Linked DNA regions of Homo sapiens. The protein of the gene in region 2 purifies or fractionates together with the protein of the main gene of each other region. This does not show direct contact. Each region holds a gene or a part of one and is shown on either strand. Other genes may lie near its edges.

The links.
Region 1: the proteins of NPAS1 (region 2) and ARNT2 purify together in Homo sapiens (co-immunoprecipitation; 3 studies listed by BioGRID and IntAct, with this or other methods). This does not show direct contact.
Region 3: the proteins of NPAS1 (region 2) and PRKACB purify together in Homo sapiens (affinity purification with mass spectrometry; 2 studies listed by BioGRID and IntAct, with this or other methods). This does not show direct contact.
Region 4: the proteins of NPAS1 (region 2) and DNAJB5 purify together in Homo sapiens (affinity purification with mass spectrometry; 2 studies listed by BioGRID and IntAct, with this or other methods). This does not show direct contact.

The regions. Positions count from the first base shown.
Region 1 is NC_000015.10:80,589,370-80,596,397, forward strand, and holds part of ARNT2 (aryl hydrocarbon receptor nuclear translocator 2), read left to right. Parts: intron 1-2,198; coding exon 2,199-2,335; intron 2,336-4,230; coding exon 4,231-4,329; 3' UTR 4,330-7,028. UniProt on the Homo sapiens protein: Transcription factor that plays a role in the development of the hypothalamo-pituitary axis, postnatal brain growth, and visual and renal function. Specifically recognizes the xenobiotic response element (XRE).
Region 2 is NC_000019.10:47,036,834-47,043,861, forward strand, and holds part of NPAS1 (neuronal PAS domain-containing protein 1), read left to right. Parts: intron 1-2,202; coding exon 2,203-2,318; intron 2,319-2,570; coding exon of another isoform or gene 2,571-2,573; coding exon 2,574-2,731; intron 2,732-3,610; coding exon 3,611-3,717; coding exon of another isoform or gene 3,718-3,897; intron 3,898-4,144; coding exon 4,145-4,292; intron 4,293-5,976; coding exon 5,977-6,071; intron 6,072-7,028. UniProt on the Homo sapiens protein: May control regulatory pathways relevant to schizophrenia and to psychotic illness. May play a role in late central nervous system development by modulating EPO expression in response to cellular oxygen level.
Region 3 is NC_000001.11:84,196,265-84,203,292, forward strand, and holds part of PRKACB (cAMP-dependent protein kinase catalytic subunit beta), read left to right. Parts: intron 1-351; coding exon 352-478; intron 479-1,464; coding exon 1,465-1,560; intron 1,561-6,418; coding exon 6,419-6,541; intron 6,542-7,028. UniProt on the Homo sapiens protein: Mediates cAMP-dependent signaling triggered by receptor binding to GPCRs.
Region 4 is NC_000009.12:34,992,740-34,998,951, reverse strand, and holds the end of DNAJB5 (dnaJ homolog subfamily B member 5), read right to left. Parts: intron 5,753-6,212; coding exon 5,508-5,752; intron 2,688-5,507; coding exon 2,086-2,687; intron 1,927-2,085; coding exon 1,693-1,926; 3' UTR 524-1,692; downstream 1-523.

The DNA.
Region 1 (7,028 bases), on a different chromosome or scaffold from region 2:
GTTGATGGCAAAGGGAAGGAGAGGTAGGTATGTACTTTAAGGAGGAAGGGCTGAGGGCATTGATTTGTGATGGGCAAGCCCCAAGGAAACCATCATTGCAGCAGCATCCTGGGTGAGCCTGTGTGGCAGTCATCTTCCTGAATGCATAAGGACATTCCCCCAGTCTACCATGCCCTTCCTTCAGCACAGGTGGCTATGTCCCTCCACCCTTCTGCCAAGCAACATGGACCCACTGAAGGCCCCATCTTGTGCTCAGCCTCTGCAGGCTTCCAGAATGGGACAGGTGCCTGTCAGGTGGGAATTTCCTCGTAGCTCCAGCTGGCGATGCTACTGTTTTAACTTTGCCACAGTTGTGGACCCAGCCTTCCCTCTGCTAAGCCAATTAATGAGGCCAGTCGACACGATTCTATGAAAGAGTTCCTCCTGGCCCTTGGGGTCTTGTGTGGGATCATTAGGAAAAGACATTTCACATAGGCAGATGAATTTTTTATAGCAGAATCCTATGTGCACAGTAGATTTAAATCTCTCTTATGCTAAGGAGGGGAATGTACCCTGCCTCAATTTTATAGAATTCCTTACCAACTATTGTCATCATGTAGAGTTTGAAAAGCACCAATGGTAAGGCATTAAAGGGACCTTATGCATTTTATTAAAGCCCTTTATGTCTCAGGCATTATATATGGGTGGATGGGTGGGAGAGAGAGCGAGGGAGAGAGAGAGATTCTTCTCCCTGAACACTTTCTAACCTGGCCTCACATTAACGCAGTGCCCAGGCTGGGGGTTGGGTGGGGCCTGAGGCTTCCCCGTGGCCAGCATGATCGTTGGAAAGAGTAGTATGGGACAAGATGGGGCTTCTCTTGCCACCCAGAGCTTGACAGAGAGCCCATTATCTCCAAAATGGTACTGAATGATTTGAAACAAGAAAAAAAGCTTCTAAGATTTTTGATGTTCCTTAAAGGTATCTTCTCTGAAGGTATTTTTTTAAGCCTCCTCTTTGGTTGAATCTCAAAAACGTTTTTAGACAAAATTCCACTTACTGGATCCTCTTTGGTTGAATCTCAAAAATGTTTTTCGACAAAAAACCACTTACTGGATAGGCACAGTGGCTCACTCATCCCAGCACTTTGGGAGGCCAGAGCAGGGGGACTGCATGAGGCCAGGAGTTTGAGACCAACCTGGGCAACAGAGCCAGACCCCATCTCTAAAAAAAAAATGTTTTTTAATTAGTCAGGCAATGTGGCATGAGCCTGTAGTCCCAGCTATGAGGGAGGCTGAGGCTGGAGGATTGGTTGAGCCCAGGATTTCAAGGCTGAAGTGAGCCATGATTGCACCACTGCATTCCAGCCAGGGCAGTGGAATAAGACTCTTTCTCGTATGTAAAAAACCAATTCCACTTATGTTTCCTATTTTTTGTTTTCTTCCATTGGCTGTTTTTTTGTATAAACTGTAGACAGAAGCAAAGTGGCTCTCATTTATAAATGAATTTGCTGATTCCCACAGAGGAACCTTATCTTGTCTGACCAGTGCCCAAATTTCTTCCCCTGCAAACAAACTGACGCAAAGAAAACACTCTGCCAAAGAGCCAGGCAGGAAAAGACTGTGGTGCTTGGCCCTGTAGGGGGACCTTGTATAATGCGTGTGTGGCTTCCGAGGAGTTGCTCGGGGGCAGAGGCTGAGGTTGGGAATGCCAAGATGAGGCTTTTCCTCTAGCAGGGCCAGATGCCTTTCAAGAGCATTCGGTGGACCGAGAGGGAATCAGGAGCAGGGGCAGGTGTGTCTTCCTCCTCATGCCAACACCATACTGCTGAGGACAGACCCTCTCTCAGCCCACACTCTGCATGCAACAGATATGCCCCTTGCCCCCCAGATGCCCGCAGGAGGCCTTTGTGCACAGTCACCAAGTGCAAGGAGCACTCCAAGGCTTAAAGCACCTAGTCACCTGGCAGGTGACCTCAGGAAGAGCCATCCTCTCTGGCCAAGTACCTGCACCATTGGGCAAAGGGCTCCTGTGTCTCTTATCCACTCCATTTATGATCTGTCAGCCAGTGAGAAAGACGAGGATAGCAAACACATTCCGCCAGCTCTGGATGGAACGTGCCTTTCAGAAGCGGGAGGCCCTCCAGCCGCAGTGGTTCTTAGGTCTCACAGAACCACGGGATGGCTTTTAAAGGAAGTGTCCTGTGTGTCGAATCTTTCAGCTGAAAGTGGACAAAGTAGCGGGCAGTTCCAAGGGCGGCCCTCGGAAGTCTGGTCGCAGTGGCAAAGCCAGCACCATGGCCAGCAGAGCGGTGAGCAGCACTCCCACCAGCAGCCCGGTCAGACTGAAGTGTTCCAGGTAAATCGAGCGAGCACCGCCTTCTCGTAGGTACCGGCGCCTTCTCTCTGCTTCCTTTCCCCCTCGGTCTCTGCCGCACCACCGCCTGCCCGATAGCCGTCGTGAGTTCTGGCCCAGCCTGGGCTCGAGGGAGTCCAGGAGTAGAAAGCCCCATCCTACCCAGCCAGAAACGTCAGGTGCATGTGGGAAGGAGAAGGGGCTGATGTAGCCTTCGAGCTAAGCCACACAATAGAGGAGGCTGCAGTTGGAGATGCTTCCCAGACTCCAGAGCTATCCAGGGTAGAGGCACAAAACCAAGGCCAAAGGGGGTCTCTCCTAAGAGCTGCAGGCACCCCCAGGCTTGGCTGTCTGTCACTGGCTGACCCTCTTTCTTCCCACCGTAGCCCCCAGGATGTGGAGGACATCCCCACCCAGGCCCTTGCTCAGTGCCAGCCTTGCCCTGGCTCTGCTCTCCTCTGTGGTTAAGCTCAGGGAGAGTCCCCGATTGAGGATACCTGGGCACCTTGAAACTCTCCATTATTTGAGACCTTTCTAGACCATCCCTCGTGTCTAAGGCAGACTGTGTGGCTGGGGATGGCACTGCTGCAGCCCCACAGAGCAGGCCCCTGCCCTTTGTGGGCTTCCTTGGCTCAACTTTCAGCCAGAAACATTCCTACTGGAAGGCTTCAAATGGAGGTACGAGCCCATTAACTCCCCTTCAGCCATCCCTCCAGGTCCTTCTAACAGGAACCCAGGCACGTCCTGCATGCCCCAGGCCTGCCCTGCAAAGCAATGATAGGGGCAGGAACCACATCGTGGGAGGGTTCTGAGACTCCCAGGATTGCAACCCCTCCTTCTCAAGAATCAGTGCTCCATATACCCCACCCTCATCCCAAGCCCCTCTCCTGCCGGGGTCAGCTGTGTCTTCACAGACAAAGGCCTGGGACTCAGATGTCACTCAGGGCAGCATTCTGTGAATGTACAGGGGAACGGCTCACCCAGGCCTTCGCCTGCCTCCCCTGACTGCAGCCATCTCCTCCTTCCTCCTTCTGTAAGGCCTTGTTCCTTGCCCATTCTGAGGCCCCACAGCAACCCTGTAAGGCAGAATTTCCTGACATGGATCTTCATGGTCACGATGCTAAAAAGAATTCTTGGCCAAATAAGCTTACGAAAAACTGGTTAAACAAAGTTATTGAGTTTCTTTATTGCAGGACGTATCAGAGCTTTTATTACACCAATAAGGACTGGATTTCTAGGAGGTAGGCAAAGTGTGCCTTGTTTCCCAAACTTATTTGTCCACAGAATTCTTTTCTCACAGAGTATCACATGGGCTGAGAATTCAACAGAACACATGTTGGGGAATTGGCTGTAAGAAACTAAAATAGTGCTATTCCCGTTTTCTGGATGGGTCATCTGAGGCCCAGAGGACTGGAAAGACATGTTGAAACTGAAATCTAACCATTCAGGGATTCGTCCCTGCGCTAAGATAAACATGGAAGACAGGCCAGCCAGGTCTCCACATACATCTTCCTTCCACTCCACTCTGCGTTGCATTTCTCTTATATTTTGGCCATCTGCTATCTGTTAGGTGCACCTTGCTTGGGGCCAGCCTGGGGTCTCCCCGCCAGTGGGGTTCTCGTCTACCCTGGGTCCCTGACTCAACCTTAGATAGACAAAGGGCATGTCCTAATGCCGTTTACCTGCTGTCACAACAGCTCCCTGGGGAGAACAGTTTCCCCGGGTCTCAGACATTTGAGGACCCTTGCAGAGCATCCCGCAGAAGGCTGGGGAGGACCTCTGGGCTGCCCCTTTAGGGATGGCCATGAGGGTGAGTGCAGACTGGGCTCCTGGGACATGCCCAGTGCACGGACAGAGGAGCTGACTCCCCTGTGGCTCTCTTTTCCTCTCCTCTGCAGGACATGCTGCCCATGCCAGGAGATCCAACCCAGGGGACTGGCAACTATAACATCGAAGACTTTGCCGACCTGGGCATGTTTCCACCGTTTTCTGAGTAGCTGCGGCCAGAGTGAGGCTCCTGCTGTACAGTGCCACCCATACTGTGATGTCGATGCCCATGTGAATGAGGCCCACCCTCGCCCTGCTTGCCCTGCCGCAGGCCCCCCACCAGAAGCCATCTCCCCCGCTGTGTGTCCCCAGGCGCATCATTGCTCCACTCTCCCCTGCAGCCGCGGCTGCTCGGCCACTGACCAGGGGCCCTGGCAGACATTAGGGGATCAGTTGTATTTATTGTATTTTATCTGTGTGTGCTCAGGAGGTGAGCCTAGTGGGTCCTTAAGTTTGGTTGTGAATAATCTCTTGATAGACAATTTATACCCATGAAAGTTCAGCCAATGCCCAGAGTGACCAAGCAGCACCAGCAGGCCTGCCCAGGATGCTGAAAGCAGATTTCTTCTTGATTTCACTTCTGATGGATGCATGGGGCTCTGGGGGAATGCTGGGAAAATGGGCAAGCAGAGTGCACAGCCCTCGTTCTGCCAGCTGGAGCCAAGAAGCACAGAGACACAGAGGCGCCTGCCCCTCAGCTCCGCTGGTCTGTCTGTGCATCCACTGTGCCGTGGGACATATGTAATTTGTGCAGTGTGACATGGACTTGCTGTCCTAATGGATGTGTTGTGCCTTGTGTCTGTCATGTGTGGCCAGCGTGATTGTATAGAATCCAGAGTATGTAGAGAGCCAAAATGTGTGGCCCTGTCCCCAAGCTCAGCACCACCGGCCATGACCAGAGGTTGCTCGGCCCAGGGTCTGGGAGCTGGGCTAACAGGCTGACACTTCGGCAGGGTCACCAGGAGGCACAGCTAGGGGCATGCTCACATGGGTAGGTCAGTTCTTTGGTCCAAGCCTCTGGTGCAGATTCAAGCTCCTCCTCTTAGAGGAAGCAGCTCCTTCCTCCCACAGGAGCCCCAAGGGAGCACTCACCCTCCTCCCAATTGGATCTGAATAGCTGTGTTCCTGATCCCACATAAGCATGTCTCATCCTTGCCCCACTGGTGAGAGGAGGACCTTGTGCCTGCCCAGAGCCTGCAGGACAGCACGCCTTGAGGTCAGAGGCCTGGCCCTTCTTTACAGATGTAGATAGCAGGGTAGGACGCCCAGGCCTTCTCACATGGGCACCATGAAACACTTTCTTCCAGGCCACCTGAGCCTTCGTTCTTCAGCCCGACTGGAGGAACAGCAGCTCTGGGAGGCACAGAGTGCAGGTCTCAGGGGCAGAAGACATGGGTTCCAGTTCTGGTTCTGCCACACACCCACCGGCCTTGAATTTCTCTGGTGGTCTCAAGACAAGAACAAGAGCTGACTCTAGAATCTTCTGCCTGGCTGACCTCTGAGCCCATGATCCCTGGCTTGCTGTGCTTCTCTTGGATTTGAGGAGAGTTTATGAATCCATCCCCCTGTTTTCAGGGACCTCTGCCTTCTCCCACACCCCTTACACTAGTGAGGACTCCTTCGGCCTCTTGTGTTTCCTTCCTTTTGTGACCATTACGCCCCCTCCCTGTTTCTTATCACCAGCCCATCAGCCCACTGACTCCCATATGGTAGAAAAGGTACCGTGGCTGCTGCAGGGCACATGGAGGGACCTACCCTCTGGGAAAGCCCTTGTGTCCCTCCCAGAGTCCTTCAGGTAGGCCCTCGCAGATGCTGCTTGCTCAGAAACAACCCGTGCATCCCTGCCCATGGATTCTGCAGGACCTAGAAGAGTGGCATTGGTTCTAGGAACCTGAGAGTGGAGTGAGGCCAGCATGCAGGAAGGAGTTTGGAGAGAGTGTTTGCTGTGATCCATTGAAAGCTCCACATTAAACCCCAGCCCTGTCTGGCCAGGGAGATCCATGTGCTCAATGTTGCTGGGGGACCTACAAAAGTCAAACATTGCTCAGTAAAATGCCTTTGGCTGGTCGCCAGCTGTGCATGACTGCAGTTCCTAGACTCTAACTTAACCCCAACTTTGCAGTTTCTAGAGCTTTTTGTCTGTAATGGTGATTGGGTCTCCACTGTAGATGCATGCAGTGTTCACTCCAACCTCAGAGGCTTTCTTGCTTCTGGGGAAATGGCAGGTGGTTGAAACCCTGCACATCCTCCCAGGGCCAGCCCCAGAATGGGCCTTTCTCTGCCTGCCCTGCCCTTGGGGCCACCTCTGCCTCCAGCAGGCTTGAGCTTGCCCCAGGCCTTGGGCATAATTATTTCCCCCCAAAAAAGGCACAAAAATAGGTTTTGGATCAAAGAAGTGTTTCTCAGTGAAATGAAAACAGTCTTTTTATAGCCTTTAGCTTGTGAGTTTGGAAGTTTGGGGGGTCTTATGTTTGTTTTGCCTCTTCTGTTTCTTGGAGGAGAGTTGAGGCTTTTCTTAGGTGCATACACAGACCCAGGTGAACACGCTGACTGTGAACCTGCCCTGTATCCGGAGCTGTGCTGGGCACTGAGGGGATGCAACAAAATTAGGAGAGGATCCTTGCTCCCAACGTCTACTTCTCCTACCTCAACAGGGGTCCAGGGTGCAGTGAACTCAGTTCTTGGCCCTTGGGTGAGGATTCATGGATGAATGAAAGCTAGACCTGATGGGGAGGCATTATGACTAAATAGGCCCAGCCTCCTTCCCTTCCAGCTCTGTCCTAGGAGCATAGGCGGGAAATCTGAGTAGAGTCTGACTGCAGTTTTTGCTTATGATTTGTAAAAGCCGTCATGGGGTCAATAAGAAAAT
Region 2 (7,028 bases):
ATTGTGCCACTGCACTCCAGCCTGGGCGAGTCCAAGACTGTCTCCAAAAAAAACAACAACAACAAAAGAAAGAAAAAAACATTAGCTGGGCATGATGACACATGCCAGTGGTCCCAGCTACTTGGGAGGTGGGAGGATGGCTTGAGCCTTGGGGACAGAGGTTGCAGTGAGGAGATCACGTTGCTGCACTCCAGCCCGGGTGACAGAGCCAGTGTCTGGAAAAAAAAAAAAAAAAAGGCTGGGTGCGGTGGCTCACGCCTGTAATCCCAGCACTTTGGGAGGCCGAAGTGGGCGGATCACCTGAGGTCGGGAGTTCGAGACCAGCCTGGCCAGCATGGTGAAACCCCATCTCTACTAAAAATACAAAAATTAGCCGGGCGTGGTGCAGGTGCCTGTGATCCCAGATACTCAGGATGCTGAGGCAGGAGAATCGCTTGAACCTGGGAGGTGGAGGTTGCACTGAGCCGAGATCAGGCCATTGCACTCTGAGTGAGACTCCGTCTCCAAAAAAAAAAAAAAAAAAAAAAAAAAAAAATTGCATTAGATCCTAAGCGCAGGCCCACAATGCAAGAAGTGTTATCTCCATTTTACATCAGAAAACTGAGGCACGGCGCGGAGAGGTTAAGTTAATTGCCCCCAGGTCACACAGCTATAAGTGATTGAGTTGGATTCTAGCCCAGGTCTGTCTGTTCCGGGGTCAGCACGCCTAACCCTTCTCTCCAGTGGAAATTTCCACTCCCACTGTGTATGGGAGGGAGGGTGCTGCAGATTACCCTGCCGGCTCTTTTTAGCTCTGAGATGTTGGGGGCCTATGAGGCTAACTATCCTGTAAATAGGATTTTCCAATCTTGGGTTTGCTTAACACCAAAAACATCTGAGACATCAGCTGTGCTTGCAAGCGTGGGGCGAAGTCTGCAACACGTGCAGGCTGTTGGGGAGTGGGACTGTGTTTGTACCTGAGTTTTAGGCACAGGGTCATCTGTGTGTGAGCATATTTTTAAGACCGTTTTGTAGGGGTTACAGAAGGATCTGGATTTGTGAGTCTTATTTATTGCTATTCCCCAATCCCCTGTTCTGGGCCAGCCCCTGTCCTGGTGACATAGGAGTGACCATGACAGCTCCAGCCCCACCCACCTGGGGCTCCCAGTCCAGTGAGGGGAGACCAACCTGTCCTCAGACAGTGGCAACCCAGATGGGGCAGGGCTGGGATAGGGGAACCCAGAGGGGATGGCTGACCCAGCCTGAGGGTCAGGGAGGGCTTCTTGGAGGAGGAGAAGTCTGTGCTGAGACCTGGAGGATGGGTCCTGAGAGGTGGGCTTTCCTCTCAAGGCCTCAGGAAGCTATGGCAGGTTCAGAGCAGGGGAGGGTGGAGGCACGTTTGAGCATTAGAAAGACGTAGATGGGGCCAGGCGCAGTGGCTCACGCCTGTAATCCCAGCACTTTGGGAGGCCGAGGCGGCCAGATCACGAGGTCAAGAGATTGAGACCATCCTGGCCAACATGGCGATACCCCGTCTCTACTAAAAATACAAAAACTAGCTGGGCATGATGGCGCGTGCCTGTAATTCCAGCTACTCAGGAAGCTGAGGCAGGAGAATCACTTGAACTGGGGAGACGGAGGTCGCAGTAGGCCGAGATCGTGCCACTGCACTCTAGCCTGGTGACAGAGCGAGACTCCAGCTCAAAAAAAAAAAAAAAAAAGACATGGATGGGACCAGACATGGTGGCTCACACATGTAATCGTAGCACCTTGGGAGGCCAAGGAGGGCAGATCCCTTGAAGTCAGGAGTTCAAAACCAGCCTGGCCAACATGGCAAAACCCCGTCTCTACTAAAAATACAAAAATTAGTCGGGCATGGTAGCATGTGCCTGTAATCCCAGCTACTTGGGAGGCTGAGGCAGAAGAATCACTTGAACCCAGGAGGCGGAGGTTGCAGTGAGCCAAGATTGCGCCATTCACTCCAGCCTGGACAACAGAGTGATATTCAGTCTCAAAAAAAAAAAGAAAGGATGCGGATGGCTGCCACATAGGGGAGCCCACATACTGTCCCCATGAGCTTTCAAAATCATCAGGCATGCCTCTGAGTGCGGCCGTGGCCCAGCGGACATCTTGTGTCTATGTCCGGCTGGCTCTGCAAGGGTCAGGGTGGCCTGTGTGTTTCCTCTTCAGGACCCCATAACCTTCCTTCACTCTCTGTCCCAGAGGCCAGCCTCACCAAGGTGCCCCCCTCCTCCCTGGTCCAGGAGCGCTCCTTCTTTGTCCGCATGAAATCCACGCTCACCAAGAGGGGGCTGCACGTCAAGGCCTCAGGGTACAAGGTGGGTGTGAGCAGTCAGGCTCCTGTATTCCAGGCAGCCATGTCCCCAGATTGAGGGTGACCGAGGGAACCAGGCTGGTGGCTTCACTGGCTGCAGGTGGCTTAGGGAACTGGGTCTGGGAATGGGACTGGGGGGGTCACACAGTGTCCAGTCCTCCAGCACCTGTGGGGGACAGAGGGAACCCAGCCCAGTGATGGTCCTCTTGCCCCCACTGGCCCGCCTTGTCCCTCCTCCAACCATGCCCACCACCAGCAGGTCATCCACGTGACTGGGCGCCTTCGGGCCCACGCCCTGGGCCTTGTGGCCCTCGGGCACACGTTGCCCCCGGCCCCCCTGGCTGAGCTGCCACTCCATGGACACATGATCGTCTTCCGTCTCAGCCTGGGTCTCACCATCCTTGCTTGTGAGAGCAGGTACCGGGGTTGGGGGCTGTGGCGGGTGGATTGGGGGCACAATGGAGATCTGGGGGTACATGGGGAGTCAGAGGGAGTGCTGGGTCTGCAGGATAGGGCACTGGGGAGCCATGGGAGGCGGAACAGCAATGGATGGGACAGGGTGATGGGGAGAAGGGAGGGAAGGCAGGGGACCAGGGCGGAGGCCTAGCCCAGGGGTGCCTTCGGGGATGGAAGAGGGGCTGTGTCTTGGGTCCGGGCCCTCCTTCTGGGGCTGCAGATCTTGGCCCGTCTCTGGTCTTTCATTTCTCATTTCTCTGGTCTTTCATCTCTCATCCATTTCCTCTCCTGCATCCCGCAGTGGAGGCAAATTAAGTGCTGAAATAGTCCCATGCTCTGAGGTGTCCAGGGTGCCTAGGGCCTTGCCACTAGCATCCACGCGAATACTCGCAGCTGCCCCGGGAGAGACACTGTTTTGTGGTTTGTTTGTTTGTTTGTTTTGAGATGGAGTCTCACTCTGTCAGGCTGGAGTGCAGTGGCGCAATCTCAGCTCACTGCAACCTCCACCTCCCGGGTTCAAGTGATTCTCTTGCCTCAGCCTCTCAAGTAGCTGGGATTATAGGCGTGCACCACCACAACCAGCTAATTTTTGTATTTTTAGTAGAGACGGGGTTTCACCATCTTAGGCAGGCTGGTCTCGAACTCCTGACCTCAAGTGATCCACACGCCTCAGCCTCCCAAAGTGCTGGGATTACAGGTGTGAGCCACCGCGCCTGCCAACACTGTTATTGCACCCATTTTACAGCAAGGGTGTGAACCCCAGGGGACTCTGGAGCCAACTCTGCCTCTCCCCCAACCCCGTGGTCTTGGACTCCTCCCCTCTTCTCTGTCACCCCCCAGAGTCAGCGACCACATGGACCTGGGGCCCTCAGAGCTGGTGGGCCGCAGCTGCTACCAGTTTGTCCACGGACAGGACGCCACGAGGATCCGCCAGAGCCACGTGGACTGTGAGACCCACCTCCACCCACCAAGCCTGCCTACCACCCCCCAGACCCGAGCATCCCACTCCCTGGTCCCTGGAAGTCCTTCTTCAGGGCTGCCCACAGTCCCTCCTGCTGCACCTACAGCTCCAGGGACTCCGTTTAGCATTGGAAGAGCAGCAAGGAGACTGAGTGATGCCTCAGGATGTGTGTGTGGGGGGGGGGTCTGGGGGGCTGTGGGGTCTCCAAAACACCCAAGAGGCCTCGCTGCTGGGCTACCTCTCAGTCTCTCTGACTCTGCCTCTCTGTGCTTTCACCTTTTTCTCTTCTCCCCACCGTCTCCCTGCCCACTCCCCTGCTCTCACTCCTCCTGTCTCCTCCTGTCTACCTGGCTCTCTGTCTTGCCCCTGTCCCCACCCCACCCCCTTCCCATCTCTCCCTGGGCTGGGCCCAGTGCTGGACAAGGGTCAGGTGATGACTGGTTACTACCGTTGGCTGCAGCGTGCCGGGGGCTTCGTGTGGCTGCAGTCTGTGGCCACAGTGGCTGGGAGCGGGAAGAGCCCCGGGGAGCACCATGTGCTTTGGGTCAGCCACGTGCTCAGGTGAGGGCTGTGCCCACCCCTCCTGCAGGGCACTCAGGGCCCTGCTGTCTCTCCCCACCTCCAGTGGGGGTGCTTTGGGGAGGGCTTCTAGAATGGGACAAGCCCAGGGGGTCTGCAGACACGAAGGGGAAGGAGGGGAGGATGGTGAGAGCAGAGGCCCAGAGTGGAACGGTCTTGCTGGCAGGAGACAGAGAGGAGTCGCCAGGGGGAGGGGGACAGTATCTTTGAGGAAGGCAGGGGCAGGCTCACAGCCTCCTCAGGCTCAGGTGGAGGGTCTGGACTCTTGACTCTGGGGCACTGGCGAGCCACGGCAGGCTCTTACCAGGGGAGGCCCACAGAGCACAGCAACTAATGGAAAGAAGCAGGGAGGGGTGTTCCAAGCAGAGGAAGGGCTCCAAGCAACAGCCTGACCCTAAAGGTAATGCCTTGGGCTGGAGTAGAAAGCAGTGAGAAACCAGCCTGAAGATGACGGCCTGGCCTTTTGGCTCAGGGGCACTGGGGAGTCATAGAAAGCTTTAGAGCTGGAGAGGATCATAGTCAGATCTGCTTTTTAGAAAGACTGCTCTAGACCGGACATGGTGGCTCATGCCTGTAATCCCAACAATTTGGGAGGCCAAGGCAGGTGGTTTGCCTGAGCCCAGGAGCTGAAGACCAGCCTGGGCAACCAAGTGAGGTCCCATCTCTATTAAAAAAAAATTTTTTTAATTGGCCCGTTACAGTGGCACGCACCTGTGGTCCCAGCTACAGCAGAGGCTGAGGTGGGAGGATCACCTGAGCCCAGGAGGTCGAGGCTGCAGTGAGCCGTGATCGTGCCACTGCTCTCCAGCCTGGGCGACAGAGTGAGACCCTGTCTCAAAAAAAAAAAAAAAAAAAAAAAAAAAAGGAAAAAACACCCTTCTAGGCCAGGCACAGTGGCTCACGCCTGGAATCCCAGCACTTTGGGAGGCCGAGGTGGGTGGATCACGAGGTCAGGAGTTGAAGACCAGCCTGGCCAAGACAGTGAAACCTCATCTCTACTAAAAATTTAAAAAAAATTAGCTGGGCATAGTGGTGCACGCCTGTAATCCCAGCTACTCGGGAGGCTGAAGCAGGAGAATTACTTGAACCCGGGAGGTGGAGGTTGCAGTGAGCCAAGATCATGCCACTGCACTCCAGCCTGGGCAACACAGTGAGACTCCATCTCAAAAACAAGCAAGCAAACAAAAAAACCCTTCTAGCTGCCATGAAGGAGGCACTGAGGGACAAGATGGGCGCTGGAGGACCAGGGCAGAGGCTGGGGCCAGTCCTGGGAAGTGCCAGACTCTATGGGGGAGGAGGGGAGGAGACCATCTTCTGCCCAGGTCTCTGGCTTTGCTGAGCCCGGATTTGGGCTCCTGAGAGGAACAGCAGGTTTGAAAGGAAGATGTAGACATCAGATGGGCATGAGGTGCCAGAGGACACCCAGGTGGTGACATCCAGGTGGCCACCGGCTATCCAGGTCTGGCCTTAGGAGCGAGGGCCACGCTGGGCTAGAAGTCAACCCGGAGTTTAGGGATCTGGTGTTGAGCCTTGTAAGTGCCTCAGGGTGGGGACTCCACATTTCCCCGTGGGAGTGTCCACACATTGCCACAAGTTGGGTAAAGCAGGAGGGAGTCCTGAGAGGCCAAGGACCCCTGGCTCCTAACCGCATCCATCTTCTCCCCAGCCAAGCCGAGGGTGGCCAAACTCCTTTGGATGCCTTCCAGCTTCCAGCCAGCGTGGCCTGTGAGGAGGCATCCAGCCCGGGGCCAGAGCCCACAGGTGAGCCCCACCTCCCACCTTGGCCCCTGGGAAGCTCCAAGGAACCTTTGGGTCCTGGCTGTCCATTCCAGAAGCCACTAGCCACATGCAGCCATTTATATACAATTAAAATTAAAATCCAGGCCGGTGCGGTGGCTCACGCCTGTAATCCCAGCACTTTGGGAGGCCGAGGCAGGTGGATCACGAGGTCAAGAGATCAAGACCAACATGGTGAAACCTTGTCTCTACTAAAAATACAAAAATTAGCTGGGCGTGGTGGCATGCGCCTGTAATCCCAGCTACTTGAAAGGCTGAGGCAGGAGAATCGCTTGAACCCGGGAGGCGGAGATTGCACCACTGCACTCCAGCCTAGCGACAGAGCGAGACTCTGTCTCAAAAAAAAAAAAAAAAAAATTTAAATCCAGGCCAGGAGTGGTGACTCAAGCCTGTAATCCCAGTACTTTGGGAGGCCGAGGCAGGCAGATCACCAGGTCAGGAGATGGAGACCATCCTGGCTAATAAGGTGAAACCCCATCTCTACTAAAAATACAAAAAAATTAGCTGGACATGGTGCCATGCTCCTGTAATCCCAACTACTCGGGAGGCTAAGGCAGGAGAATCGCTTGAACCCGGAGGGCAGAGGTTGCAGTGAGCCGAGATCATGCCACTGCACTCCAGTCTAGGTGACAGAGCAAGATTTAAAACAAAACAAACAAACAAAAAATTAGCTGGGCATGGTGGCACGTGCCTGTAGTCCCAGCTACTCAGGAGGCTGAGGCAGGAGAGTCGCTTCTACCCAGGAGTCAGAGGTTGCAGTGAGCTGAGATCTCACCGCTGCACTCCAGCCTGGGTGACAGAGTGAGACTCCATCTCAAAAAAATAAAATAAAATAAAATCCAGGCCCGGTGTGGTGGCTTATGCCTGTAAACCCAGAACTTTGGGAGGCTGAGGTAAGAGAATTGCTTTAGCCTAAGAGTT
Region 3 (7,028 bases), on a different chromosome or scaffold from region 2:
AGACACTCCATTTGGCACATTTGCTTTCCAATTATTCTCAAGATCAGACATAATTAGAAAGACATCAATATATTTAAATATGGGCAATAATGATTCACAATGAGCTAACTATTTTAGGTTTATATTTTTCCTCAACATATGCTTCCCCATAAATTTATCAGAGCGTTATTTGAACAAAATATAGAGATTTAATAAATATTTGAAAAGTAACAAGGTTCTTTACATACTTTTTAAAAAAATACTTTTTGTTCCCAAAGTACCTCTACTTCATATTAGTTTTTATGCATAATCTACTAATTAGAATGTATTAACTCATTTTTACAGAAAATCAATGGTTTTATTTCTTTGCAGTGAGCCCCATGCACGGTTCTATGCAGCTCAGATAGTGCTAACATTCGAGTACCTCCATTCACTAGACCTCATCTACAGAGATCTAAAACCTGAAAATCTCTTAATTGACCATCAAGGCTATATCCAGGTATGACTTTAACACATTATGTGTACTGTATATGAGAAAATACTAGGCAAGACATTGTATGTATGTAACCCCAACTTGGAATTTTTTTTGAAGAAGACACTTTCTCCTAATAGTTTAAGTAGAGCTCAGAGTTTTGCTGCTATTACAGAGAAGCAAAAATCCTGTTATGAAAGGAACTTGTTTATATCTCCATTAATCTATAGTTGTGAACTGAGTATAGCCTCTTGCATAAGGAGATATTAATAGCTAAATCTATGAGCAGTTATTAGTGCCAGGCATATTCCACTTGTTTTACATGTATTATTTCTTTAATCCTGATAAACCTATGAAGTGGAAATACCATTGTTATCTTCATTTTAAGATTAACAAAACTAAGACATAGCAAGGTCATTTAGCCAATAAATGGTAGAGTCAGAATTTGAACCTAGGCAGTCTGATCCCAGAGTCCATGCCCTTTACGACTACAATATAACTGCCAAAGAATCCCTGACTACCAATACTGAACTCGTAGCAACGTTTTCTTTCCACTTCTACTACTAATAAAGTGGGAGCATTTCTTTTTACACAATTATTGATAGATTCTCCCATTGACGTTTTTACACTTCTGATGGTGCAACTAATGGCAGAGGACACATTGGGGTAAGGCAGACATTTAGCATTGTTTCATTTTTATTAATGCTATTTATTTTTACCTTTTATTTTCACTTTTTTATTCCTTGGGTCTAGGATCTTATAATAATGACTGAAAAGAGTTTTGTTGTTATTAATTTGTTCCTTTTCTTTGAGTTGAGGAAGGATTTCCAACTTGGATTGTTTAAACTTTCATTCACTAGATATTCATGAATGAATTTCAATTACGTGGACTTAATTTTTTTTCCATTTCTTTCATAGTTTCAATTTGAATTTTAAACTTTCAACGTAGGTGCAATAAATACATTTATTGTGAGGTAATACATTTTCACTAGTATTCTTTTTTTCTTTTATAGGTCACAGACTTTGGGTTTGCCAAAAGAGTTAAAGGCAGAACTTGGACATTATGTGGAACTCCAGAGTATTTGGCTCCAGAAATAATTCTCAGCAAGGTATATTCATAATATCAACACATAAGAAGTAGAAATATGAGACATGCATCCCTATGGACTTTTGTAAAAACAGTTTATTGATCTAATTTTACATTTTTAATTTGATCTAAGTTATGAATTTAAATCTATTTGTGCATGATTACTAAAGAATTATTATTTAGCATCTACCACTAATCCTGTAACCTCTGTCAATTTTAACTCTGGGTCTTAGAGATATAATATGAATAAATATGACCTCTAGATCCATGTTTTGCAACCAAAAACATAGTCTTTTCTTAATTATTCCTAGTAACGGAAGGGTAGAGAAGACTTGCTCTGGATTATACCAAGAGGTAAATCTAGAGATGATATGTACTAGTTGTCCATTCTTTCTTTGTTTCAAATTTACCAGTTAAATAAAAGGAATGTATGAGAAGTGTTTTTAAATTTTAAATAGGACTATTAACAGCAATTGAATAGTTTTAGTCTTATTGAAGGCAGCTCTGCTTTTCTAAATAGTGAAACGTGGTGAGAGAAACTGTACCTATATCCAAAAGAATGGTTAACTTTTCCTCTGCCATCACTTGGTGGAGAAATCTAGAAAGGAGAACCTAACAATAACCAGGCACAAATAGGAGAGAGGAAAAGGAAGGGGATAAGACACATGCTTCACTGGTTCCCAAATGGAATCATTGAAATATGGCTAACTTATAGAAGTGTTAAAATAAAAGATTTCTTTCAACTTTTCTCTCATTATCTTTCATAATTTAAATAATATGTAACTTCTTGATATTTTATAATCTAAATATCATTGTAGTTAACACATTTCTTTAAATACAGTTAACAAATAATGGGACAACAAAATGAGCACTAAAACTTTTACAAATGTGTATATATTGTAAAAGTAATACTCATTATACAAAATTTAGAAAATACAGAAAAACATAAACAAACAACCAAAAAAAAACCTATATGTAATCCCACCAACCTAGACGCAGCCTTTTTAAAAACATTCATATATGTATGTACATATATGTATATATGTGTATATGTGTATATATATACACCACATATATGTGTATATATGTGTATATATATACACATATGTGTGGTGTGTGTGTATATATGTATATGTGTATATATACATATATATTCATATATATGTGTATACGCATATATGTATATATGTATATGTGTATATATACATATATGCGTATATATACACATATATACGCATATGTATGCATATATATATGCGTATATATGCATATATGTATATATATGCGTATATATGCATATATGTATATATATGCATATATATATATATATACACACACATTTTAGCTTTATTTTAGCTTTCATTTTAGGTTCAGGGATACATGTGAAGGTTGGTTACAGACGTAAACTCATGTCATGGGGGTTTGTTATACAGATTATTTCATCACTCAGGAATTAAGCCCAGTACCCATAGTTATCTTTTCTTATCCTCTCCCTCCTCCCTACCTCCACCCTCAAGTAGAATCCAGTATCTGTTTTTTCCTTCTTTGTCTTCATAAATTCTCATCATTTAGCTCCCACTTACAAGTGAAAACATGTGGTATTTGGTTTTCTGTTCTGCATTAGTTTGCTGAGGATGATAGCCTCCAGCTCCATCCATGTTCATGCAAAAGACATGATCTCATTCCTTTTTATAGCTGCATAGTATTCCGTAGTGTATATGTACCACATTTTCTTTGTCTAGTCTACAATTGGTGGACATGTAGGTTGATTCCATGTCTTTGCTTTTGTGAATAGTGCCACAATGAATAAACAAATGCATGTGTCTTTATGATGAAATGATTTATAATCCTCTGGGTGTATACCCAGTAGTGGGATTGCTGGGTCGAATGGTAGTTCTGCTTTTAGCTCTTTGAGGAATCTCCATACTGCTTTCCACAATGGTTGAACTAATTTACACTCCTACCAACAGTGTCTAAGTGTTCACTTTTCTCTGCAACCTTGCCAGCATCTGTTATTTTTTGACTATTTGTTTATTTATTTATTTATTTATTTATTTTCTGGAGATGGAGTCTTGCTCTGTCGCCCAGGCTGCAGTGCAGTGGCGTGATCTCGGTTCACTACAACCTCTGCCTCCTGAGTTCAAGCGATTCTCGTGCTTCAGGCTCCCAAGTAGCTGGGACTACCGGCATGCACTACAACACCTGGTTAATTTTTGTATTTTTTAGTAGAGACAGGGTTTCACCATATTGGTCAGGCTGGTCTTGAACTCCCGACCTCAAGTGGTGCACCCTCCTTGGCCTCTCAAAGTGCTGGGATTACAGGGGTGAGCCACTATGCCCTTCCATTTTTTTACTTTTTAGTAATAGCCATTCTGACTGGTGTGGAATGGTATCTCATTGTGGTTTTGACTTGCTTGCATTTCTCTAATGATCGGTGATATTGAGCATTTTTTCATATCTTTGTTGGCCGCATGTATGTCTTGTTTTAGAAAGTGTCAGTTCATGTCCTTTGCCCACCTTTTCATGGGGTTGTTTGTTTCTTGTAAATTTGTTTAAGTTCCTCATAGATGCTGGATATTAGACCTTTGGCAGATGCATATGGTTTGCAAATATTTTCTCCCATTCTGTAGGTTGTCTGTTTACCGTTGATAGTTTCTTTTGCTGTGCAGAATCTCTTCAGTTTAATTAGATCCCACTTGACAGTGTTTGCTTTTGTTGGAATTGCTTTTGGTGTCTTTGTCATGAAACCTTTGTCCATTCTTATGTCCAGGGTGGCATTGCCTAGGTTGTCTTTCAAGGTTTTTATACTCCGGGGTTTTGCATTTAGGTCTTTAATCCATTTTGAGTTGATTTTTGTATATGGTATAAGGAAGGGATCTATCTTCAGTCTTTTGCATGTGGCTAGCCAGTTATCCCAGCACCATTTATTGAGTAGGGAAACTTTTCCCCATTGCTTGGTTTTGTCAGCTTTGTCAAAGATCGGGTGGTCGTAGGTGTATGGACTTATTTCTGGGTTGTCATAGTTGAAATCATAGTAAATATATATAGTCTTGTCTCTGACTTTTTTCACTTTTATAATAACAAGCATGCAAACATCATTCTAATGGCTTGTTTGTAAATGTACCATAAAATATGTAGCCACTCTTCTATCGTTGAGTGTTCAGGTTTTATTTTTGATTTTTTTATTATTATAAATAACTATGATAAACATCCTTATACATAAAAGTTTTTTCCTTATTTTACATTATTTCCTTAGCATATATTCCCAGAAGTAGAATTACTGGGTCAAGGAATAGGAACATTTTTAAGGCTTTTGATACATATTGCCAAATTGCTTTCCAAAGTTATTATGCCATTTTACACTTCTACCATTAGTGTATTATAGTGCCTATTTCATAACACTATCACTGGGTATACTCATTTTTAAAATATTTACTGATTTCATAGGCAATAAATTGTATCTCATTGTTTTAATTCTCATGTTTTTTATTTATTTTTCAAATGGTTAATAGCCATTTGGTATTTCTTTATGTGTCTGTAAATTATTAGTTCATTTCCTTGGCCCATTTATCTATTGTAATTTAACATTTTTCTTATTGATGTGTTTTGATTTCTATACCTTGGGTATTAACTTGTGTCTGACATATTTACTATAAACATTAGCACACAATTTAAACATATGAATCAAAAAGTTAAAGAGAGTTAATGCCTATTTCTATTAAAAAACAAAGTGCTATTCCTGTTATACCACTCCTTCCCTTAAAAAGATATACACAGTATCAGGAAAAAAAAGAGAAAAAGAAAATCTCTATAGCGCTAAAGTATTATATTTTTGCTAGAATTTTGAAAACTAAGTAGTTTGTAAAGCTAAAATTTTGACAAAAGGGTGGAATGTGGTGAGTCGTGATGGTAGAGGGTACCTCTGAGGGCAGAGCAATAGATCTGGGTAGAATTCAGCTTATTTCTCTTCATGACAGGTTTTTGGGGTTGTTAAAAAATCTCTTGTGTCAGTTGATACTGACCATAGTTAATAAACTATATTAGCATGTTAATATGAAGATGTTATTCTTATTTATTTTCTTATGAATACTTACAAATTTTAATTTTAGTAAGCTTAATATGAAAAAAACAAACATAACCTGTGATTTTTACATTTGGTTTGCAAAGCACTTTTTACACACGTTACTCCCTTTCATTTGATACAGTCCTCACAAAACTCTGTGAATTCATTTTTTTCCTGCATATCTTTTAGATATAGGAAGCAAGACAGTAGATAGCAGAAGTAAAGTATACCTAAATATTTACATGAATTGAATTTTACATTAAACTTTTTGCTTTCACAAAATCCTATGAAGCAGATGGGATTATCCCTAGCACATTCACCCTCCTAACTCCAAAAATATAGAGTATTTTGAAGTCAACTTCATTATTTACTATGTAGTCCAGTTTCTATTATTTTCTTTGAAAACTTTTGATCTTTCTAGGCATGCTGTGGAAAATCTGTTTCATAAGATTATGGACCTAGAGTGGGCCTTAAGAAGTAATGTGGTCTAACTGCCTTCCTGTTATTGAGCAAGAACTAAATTATACCAGTGAAATAAAGAAAATTTCATTGTCTATAATATTCTTAATAATTTTAGGAAGAAGATTTAATACTCTTTCCTAATATCCAATTTCAGTATCTGGAAATCCTCTCCTTTGTTTAATTTAAATCTGACCTGATACATTTGGTTCATTTTTAAATTCTGTCCTGAATAGCTGCTCAGCAATTGCTTTAAAAAAATTTTTATATGCTTCCAGATCATTTTGAAATTATCTTTGACTTCATTCTCTTTTGAGTAACTTAAGTAACAATTGACATTGGTGTTGGTTTATCTCAGGGCTACAATAAGGCAGTGGATTGGTGGGCATTAGGAGTGCTAATCTATGAAATGGCAGCTGGCTATCCCCCATTCTTTGCAGACCAACCAATTCAGATTTATGAAAAGATTGTTTCTGGAAAGGTAAGTAAAACATTTTATTATTCCTCTCTTATTACTGTATATGAATTTTAAGCTTCATGAATTGAAACTATATTGTGTCATAATTATTATTCTACATTGGGAAAAATATAGAAAAATCTACAGTTGCTGCTCTTACTATCATAAGAATTGAATCATTTCAGTCTCTTAAGAAAAAAAGGGCAGTTTTATAAAGAAATTAACAAAACAGTAAAGCAATTTCTGTATTTAGTATTTTTATCACAAAGAACAGGATCATAGCCATAATTCTCGATATTCCTTCAAATAAATAAAAATAGTTTATTATTTCATGTGTCTATCTTCATGGAGAAAAGTTTTAGGGGCTGTTTTATATGCCCTTCCATTTTCAGGAGAGACTTCTTGTTTTAATTATGTCCAATACTATAACATTGGAAGTAAAAGTAAATATAAAATGAATAAGCCTTTTTCAGATGGAAATTTATAGAATTGATTTTAACAGAATTGTTCA
Region 4 (6,212 bases), on a different chromosome or scaffold from region 2:
ATCCCAGCTACTCGGAGGCTGAGGCAGGAGAGTCGCTTGAACCTAGGAGACAGAGGCTGCAGTGAACCAAGATCGCATCACTGCACTCCAGCCTGGGCGACAGAGCAAGACTCCGTGTCAAAAAAAAAAAAAAAAAAAAAAAGTTCTCCACCCCCTCCTAGAAAAAAATTTTCTCCTAGAAGGAAAATTTGTCTGACTCAGAGAAAATTTAGACAAGAAGAGAAAATCTGTTTTCATGCTAGCACATCTGAAGACAATGGTCTCTGTCTCTCATGAGCAGGGATATTTTTCCTTCCCAAATAGATGTTTCTTCTAATAGCTGAGTGGTACTTTCTGTCTGTGCTGTGTTTGAAGTATAAGTTTTAGAAATCCCAGGAGGCTTCGAGGAAGGCAGAGGTCAGCTTCAGCTTATACTGAGGGCCTGCTTGGGCTTCTCAAAGGTGACCAGAGCCCGGGAGGGAGGATGACAGTGGCCCTCCTCAGCCACCCCCATCCCAGGTTTGTTGCTCCTGCTCAGATGCCATATTTTTAAAATACTTTATTTTTTACATAATACTGTCATTACAAAAAAATACAAAAAAACTACTATAAAAACATTCGGGGGTTGTCAAAGTGAGAAAACCTAAAGACCCCACCCCAGGATCTGGCTGAAGCAGTCTTCCCCCAGCTTCTTCACTATGACCTTTATACAACTATGGGGGTGGGGTGGGATCACACAGGCATAAAAGGGCTGGAAATTCCCCACACAGCCTCCAAGGGTAAGAAATGAGTAGCTTCACATATCACAAAAGTGGGATTTGGAAGTTTGGGGGTGGCTAGGCCCTGAGTTCAGAGGTGTGGGGAAAAACCTGTGACCCTGAATCTCTTGGTGGGGAATAGCTGCCACCTGACCCCAAAGCCCTTTCCCTTCCTGATGAAGGCTGGTAGATGGGCCCTGTCCCCCACCTCTTAGCCTTAATACCTCAGGCCCCATTCCCTGCCCTCCACCCTTGAACACTCCTGAGAGCAGCAGGGAGGACAGAACCTCCAGCTCTGCAGGTGTAGGCAGGGCAGCTGTTACGGAGGCTGCTGAGGAGCTCACCCCCCTGCTCCAGATGAAAAGTGTCTCGTGCTCAAGTCCCTGTTCACAGGTTGTGAACTTTCCCTTCTTATCCTCTCTCCTTTCTCCCAGAGAGGCACAGACAGCTCTAGGTGAGTGCTTCTTGTGCATGAATATGTGTGCCATTACCTTGGACACTGTGGACCTGGGGGTGGGGCTGAGAAAGCAATGTCCTTTCTAGTCTTTTCCACCCCCAACAGCAGGAAGCCAAAGGGAAGGGAGGGGACTGGTATTAGCAAAGCTGAGGGGAGGAGGACATGCTATGTACAGGCATGGATAAGGAATCTCTACATATCTTCAAGTAGCACTCAGGTCACTCTCCAGCCACTGCAGTGGAAACTGGATTGAAAGCTAGTGACATGAACATTGACCCCTGGCCTGGGCTAGCTCTCCCCACCTCCCTCCCACTCCCCCCAGGCAGCCCAGCTCTAAAAGGGGTCAGGGACAGGAACATTTTCCTGAAAACCAGTGGCTTTTTTTTGCATTTTAGAAAAAGTTGCCAGTGTCCAGTGGACATCAAGCTGGGTGCACATTGAGTGGAGTGAGTGTTGGGGGTATTGCTGTGGTAGGCTCTGGACTGGCTGGGGCAGAGCCTAGGAACAGGGTAGGTGCTGCTTAAGGATCTGTCTTGTCTGTGGTGTTAATCTGTCTGGGAAGCGAACTTTGAACTCAACAATGAGGTCTCCTCGCTGAGTTGGCACTTTGGGGAAGGGAAGGCCCTCCCCACGGAGTCTCTTCACGGTGCCTGGCTTGATGACATCATTGCAGGGCAAAGGGATCACTCGGCCGTCGATAGTGGGAATGTTCACAGTGCAGCCACACAGCGCCTGGGAAAGACGAAGCAGAAAGTGAGGAAAAGGTGGGGTAAGGTGAGTGGGAAGGAAGGAAATAGACTGAGGTGGGGAAAGAATGTGCCAGCTGGCGGGAAGAGAGGGAATGTCCCCACCATCTCCCCAGCACACACACACAGCCTGACTAGGCCCCACCTCCTTGAGGCTGATCAGGGCACTGTAGAGCACGTTGGTGCCATCTCGGCGGAAGTGTGCATGGGGCTTGTCTTTGAGCACAAAGACGATGTCAGCAGGGATGTTGTCAGGTGTGGCGTCGCCTTCTTTGGGGAAGGTGATCTTGGTGCCTTCCTTCCAGCCACGCTTGATGACTATGTGCAGGATCTTGTCCTCGGTGCGCACAGTTCGCCCATCAGGGTTGAGGCGACGCCTTGTGATCTTCATGCGCTTGGTGGAGCCATGGTAGATCTCCTCCAGGGACACCCGCAGCTCGTGCACCACTGGGGGGTCCTGCACCTTGCGCCGAGGGTACAGTGGTTCTGGGGCTCGCCTTGGACCCCTACTCAGCCCATTGAAGCCAAAACGGCCGAAAGCGCCAAATGGGTCCTCATCTTCATCCACATCCATGTCATCTGGGTCAAAGCCACTGAAGGGCCGAGTGGAGCGGCTGCTGGCAAAGAAGATATCGAAGGGGTTGGAGCCACCAAAGAAGGAGGCAAAGGTGGCATGGGGGTCCCCATGAAAGGTGTAGTGAAAGGAGCCACTGGAGCCACCTGATGTGCCACCGCCGGTCTTCAGGCCTAGAGGGGAGGAGAAGTTAGGGGCAGTGTGGCTTATTCTGGCCCCAATCCCAGTGTCTTCCCCCTGCCCTCTAGCTCCCAGTTCACAGGCTTAAAGAAAGAAGCAACCTTTAAATCCCACAGAGAGGGCCAGGCTAATAGAGTAAGAAAGGCTTCTGGCAAGATTATCTTCCATTCCTAATTATATATTTAATAACGATGCACAACTTGAGATTCAAAGAGGCTTGCTTACCCAATAGGTGGAAAAGCCAGGACTAGAGGACTTAGAGGATGTGACTTCCAGTCCTGTAATCTTTTCCACATACTCATGGTCCAAAGATGTCTCAAAAAGCCTTGAATGACTAGCCTGGTGTCACATTACAAGTGATACTTGGTTCCCAAATCTTTGCTTATCTCCAAAGACATATAGGACAAGGGGCCATCAGACAGGATGTGACCACAGAGGGGGCTGGTAAGTGAACAGTCGCAAATAGGCTAGGGATCCAACCCGGGAGGAAGACCACTTTCACTCTGCTTCTAGCAGTGTTTCCTCTTTCCCTGGCCCCTGCTCAAACGGGAAATCAGGAAGCCTTAAAAAGTGGGAAAGCTCATTAGCTTGGAGATGAAGAGCTATTTTTCTAGAAAAAGTTTTTAAATGCTTTGTTCCCACACTCTGCTCGGTGTTACACAACTTTAGGGAGTGTCATTCACACATTGTACAGACATAGACTACAATGGGAATGGAGCTCCCTGGAGTTATACAACAGCAAACGCCATACCCCACACCTAATGTTGAGCAACCAAAATGCATGAATGGGCTGGCACATGGCAGTGGTGACCTTAGCTGCTCTCTCTGTCAGGTCCTGTCTAAGGGGCTCAGATTCCTGGAGGCAGCCTTCATGCACAGGAGGGGGTGCTGGCAGTAGTGGGGGATGTGGGGAGACGGTTCACACTGAGAACTGCTCCGGAATACAGAGACTATGGGTGGGGTCCAGGCTAGGAAAGAGACCCTTCTCTTTGAGGCCATTTATCTAGAATTTCAACTGATCATGGAGATCTGAGCCTAAATTAGCCTCTTATTTCCTGGGACCACAAGGGCAGATTTGAGTTTCACTAGAGAGGCCAAGTGGCAGACGGTTCAGGGACTTGTGGCAGCTGCCTCTTCACCCCTCCCCCAAGACCTAGGATCTCTCCTTTCCTTCTATCGAGGGGCTGATTATCAAGCGAGTTCAAGCAGCCTGGCAGAGCTCAGTGAGAGAGGGAGGGAGGCTGGACTGATGATGATGGGAAGGGGTAATTCTCTCTATAGGGATTTCTATTCTTCCACTACCACCCCCTTTTCAAGCTGGGAGCAACTTGTCCCTAGCTGGAGCTGCACACAGAGTCTGTGTGTATAACTGCTCTATAATAAATGGCTGCTGGGGATTGGGCAGGGTGGACAGAAATATAACCAACATTTCTAAGCTGCTTCTCCCTCCCCAGGCCATGGAGGTCCCCTTAAGGCCATGCCGCATCCTCAGGGGCCTTCCTGGGATGGGGTTCTGCATCAGAACCTGGTGTCTGGACCCCTTCACTTAGGCAGAAGGGGTGAAGTATCTCAAGGGAGCTCTCCCAGCTCCTGCCTTCTTTCTAAACAAAGGTGAGGCTGAATGGAGGAATGGGTGCAATTCCAAGACAGGTCACATGGTGGCATGGTGTCTGCACTGCTTCCCTCTTTTCCACTCCTATCCCTCCCATCCCTCCATGCCAGAGAGAAAAATGTCTTAGCTGAAAGAATACTGGGGGTTCCAGCCGGTATCTGGTGAATCTGGGAGTTGGCACGTCTAGGAGGTAGGCAGGAAGAATGGAAGGAACCGGCAGCATGGAGAATAGGAAAAGGGAGTTGGGAGGATGAGGGTTCACAGAGGGGCATGGAACACAAGGCCAGGAGGAGGGGAAGAAAATAACCTTCTTATCTACATATGATTAGCCCATTTAGTTTTGAGGATAGAAAGGGGAGGGTGAAGAGGAGGAGAATGTGAAAGAAAGGTGGATTCTGTTGGGGAGGAAGGACAGTTCTTCCCAGGAAGGAGAGTCCTCAGCGTGACAATGTCTCTTAATATAGCCTGACAGGTGCCTGTGGCTGGCGGGTGGCAGGCAGCCCTGAGGGGCAGGCCCAGAATTAGCAGCTACATCATGGCCGTGGGATGTGCTGGGAGGGGCCTCCCTCTCAGAGGCTTTATTTGGGCCTTTCCTGCCTCCCACCCCATGGCCACCAGCTACCCCAGGGAAGGGGGAAGATGCCAGCAGCAGTTCCCCGTCCACCCTTGGATCCCTGCCACTTCCTCTGGGAGGCAAAGCTCCACCTCTGTTCTGCTGGCCAGAAGCAGGCAGGGCCGGGGGAGAGAAGGGGAAAACCATTTCTGCTCAGAGCTCTGGTAGTTAATTCCCAGGCTGCTTAAGGGCCAGACTTTTATGCTGATGAATGTAAATGCTCTGTCCTCAGAGAGCCACACACTCCCTCTCCCCAACCTTCCTCATCAGCCAATGAAGCAGCGGAGACTTCAGGCAGGACTAATAAGGCTGGGAAGGAAAGAAGGGCGGGGAAGGCCTCTGGCTCTTGCTTCAGACCTCTCTAAGGCCTGAACCCGAGGAGGGAGGGGGCAGAGAGAGGCGGGGAGAACTAGGGTGAGCTGAGCTGGGTAGTGGGTGGGCTTCTCTCTTCTCTGGGTGACAGTGCTGGAAACCCTTGCTGCCCTCACCCCCTCCACAGCCTCCAGTTCCCCGCTACACAAACTGGTGCACCTGGGACCCCTACCAAGCGGAGGGGTCCGGGATTGGGCTGGAGTGCTGCCCTCTTACCTTCCTCCCCATACTGGTCATACAGGCCCCGTTTCTTGGGGTCACTTAGCACATCATAGGCCTCTGCAATCTCCTTAAACTTCTCCTCAGCGTTGGGTTCTTTATTCTTGTCTGGGTGGTACTTCAAGGCCATCTTCCGGTAGGCTTTCTTGATCTCATCCTCGTTGGCCCCCGATGGGATCCCAAGAATCTTGTAATAATCTTTTCCCATCACAGCCACTGGACCAGCACTGGTCTCCTTGTTTCTGAAAGAAACCCAGGGCCAAGACTTGATGCCTTCTCTTCTGCCCCAGCCCTGTTCCTGATGATCTTGCAATCCCTAAATGACTCCCTGGGTAACCTTCAGCAGGTCATGCCTGTTCTGTGGGCCTGCGTCCCCCCATCTGTAAAATGAAAGGTTTGGACTAGATGATCTCTTCTGGCTCTGACATTCTAGAATTCTGTGATTCCGTCCTCACCTCCTGGGTTTTCCCAGCAGGAAGCTGAAGGTTGTGGCCCACTCTTGGGGCTAGGCTGAGGCCCTGGTCCTTGGGCCAGACTGAGGACCCCTGAGAGGCCCTGCTGAGCGAGGTGGCACCATGGACTGAGCGACCCACACACAGGAGCTGGCGAAGGTCAGTGTAACGGGTGAGGTCACCTGAGCATCGTGGTCTCCTACGCCACGCCTCAGGCATGGTGCCCAGGCTGAGGGCAGCTGGGGCAGTG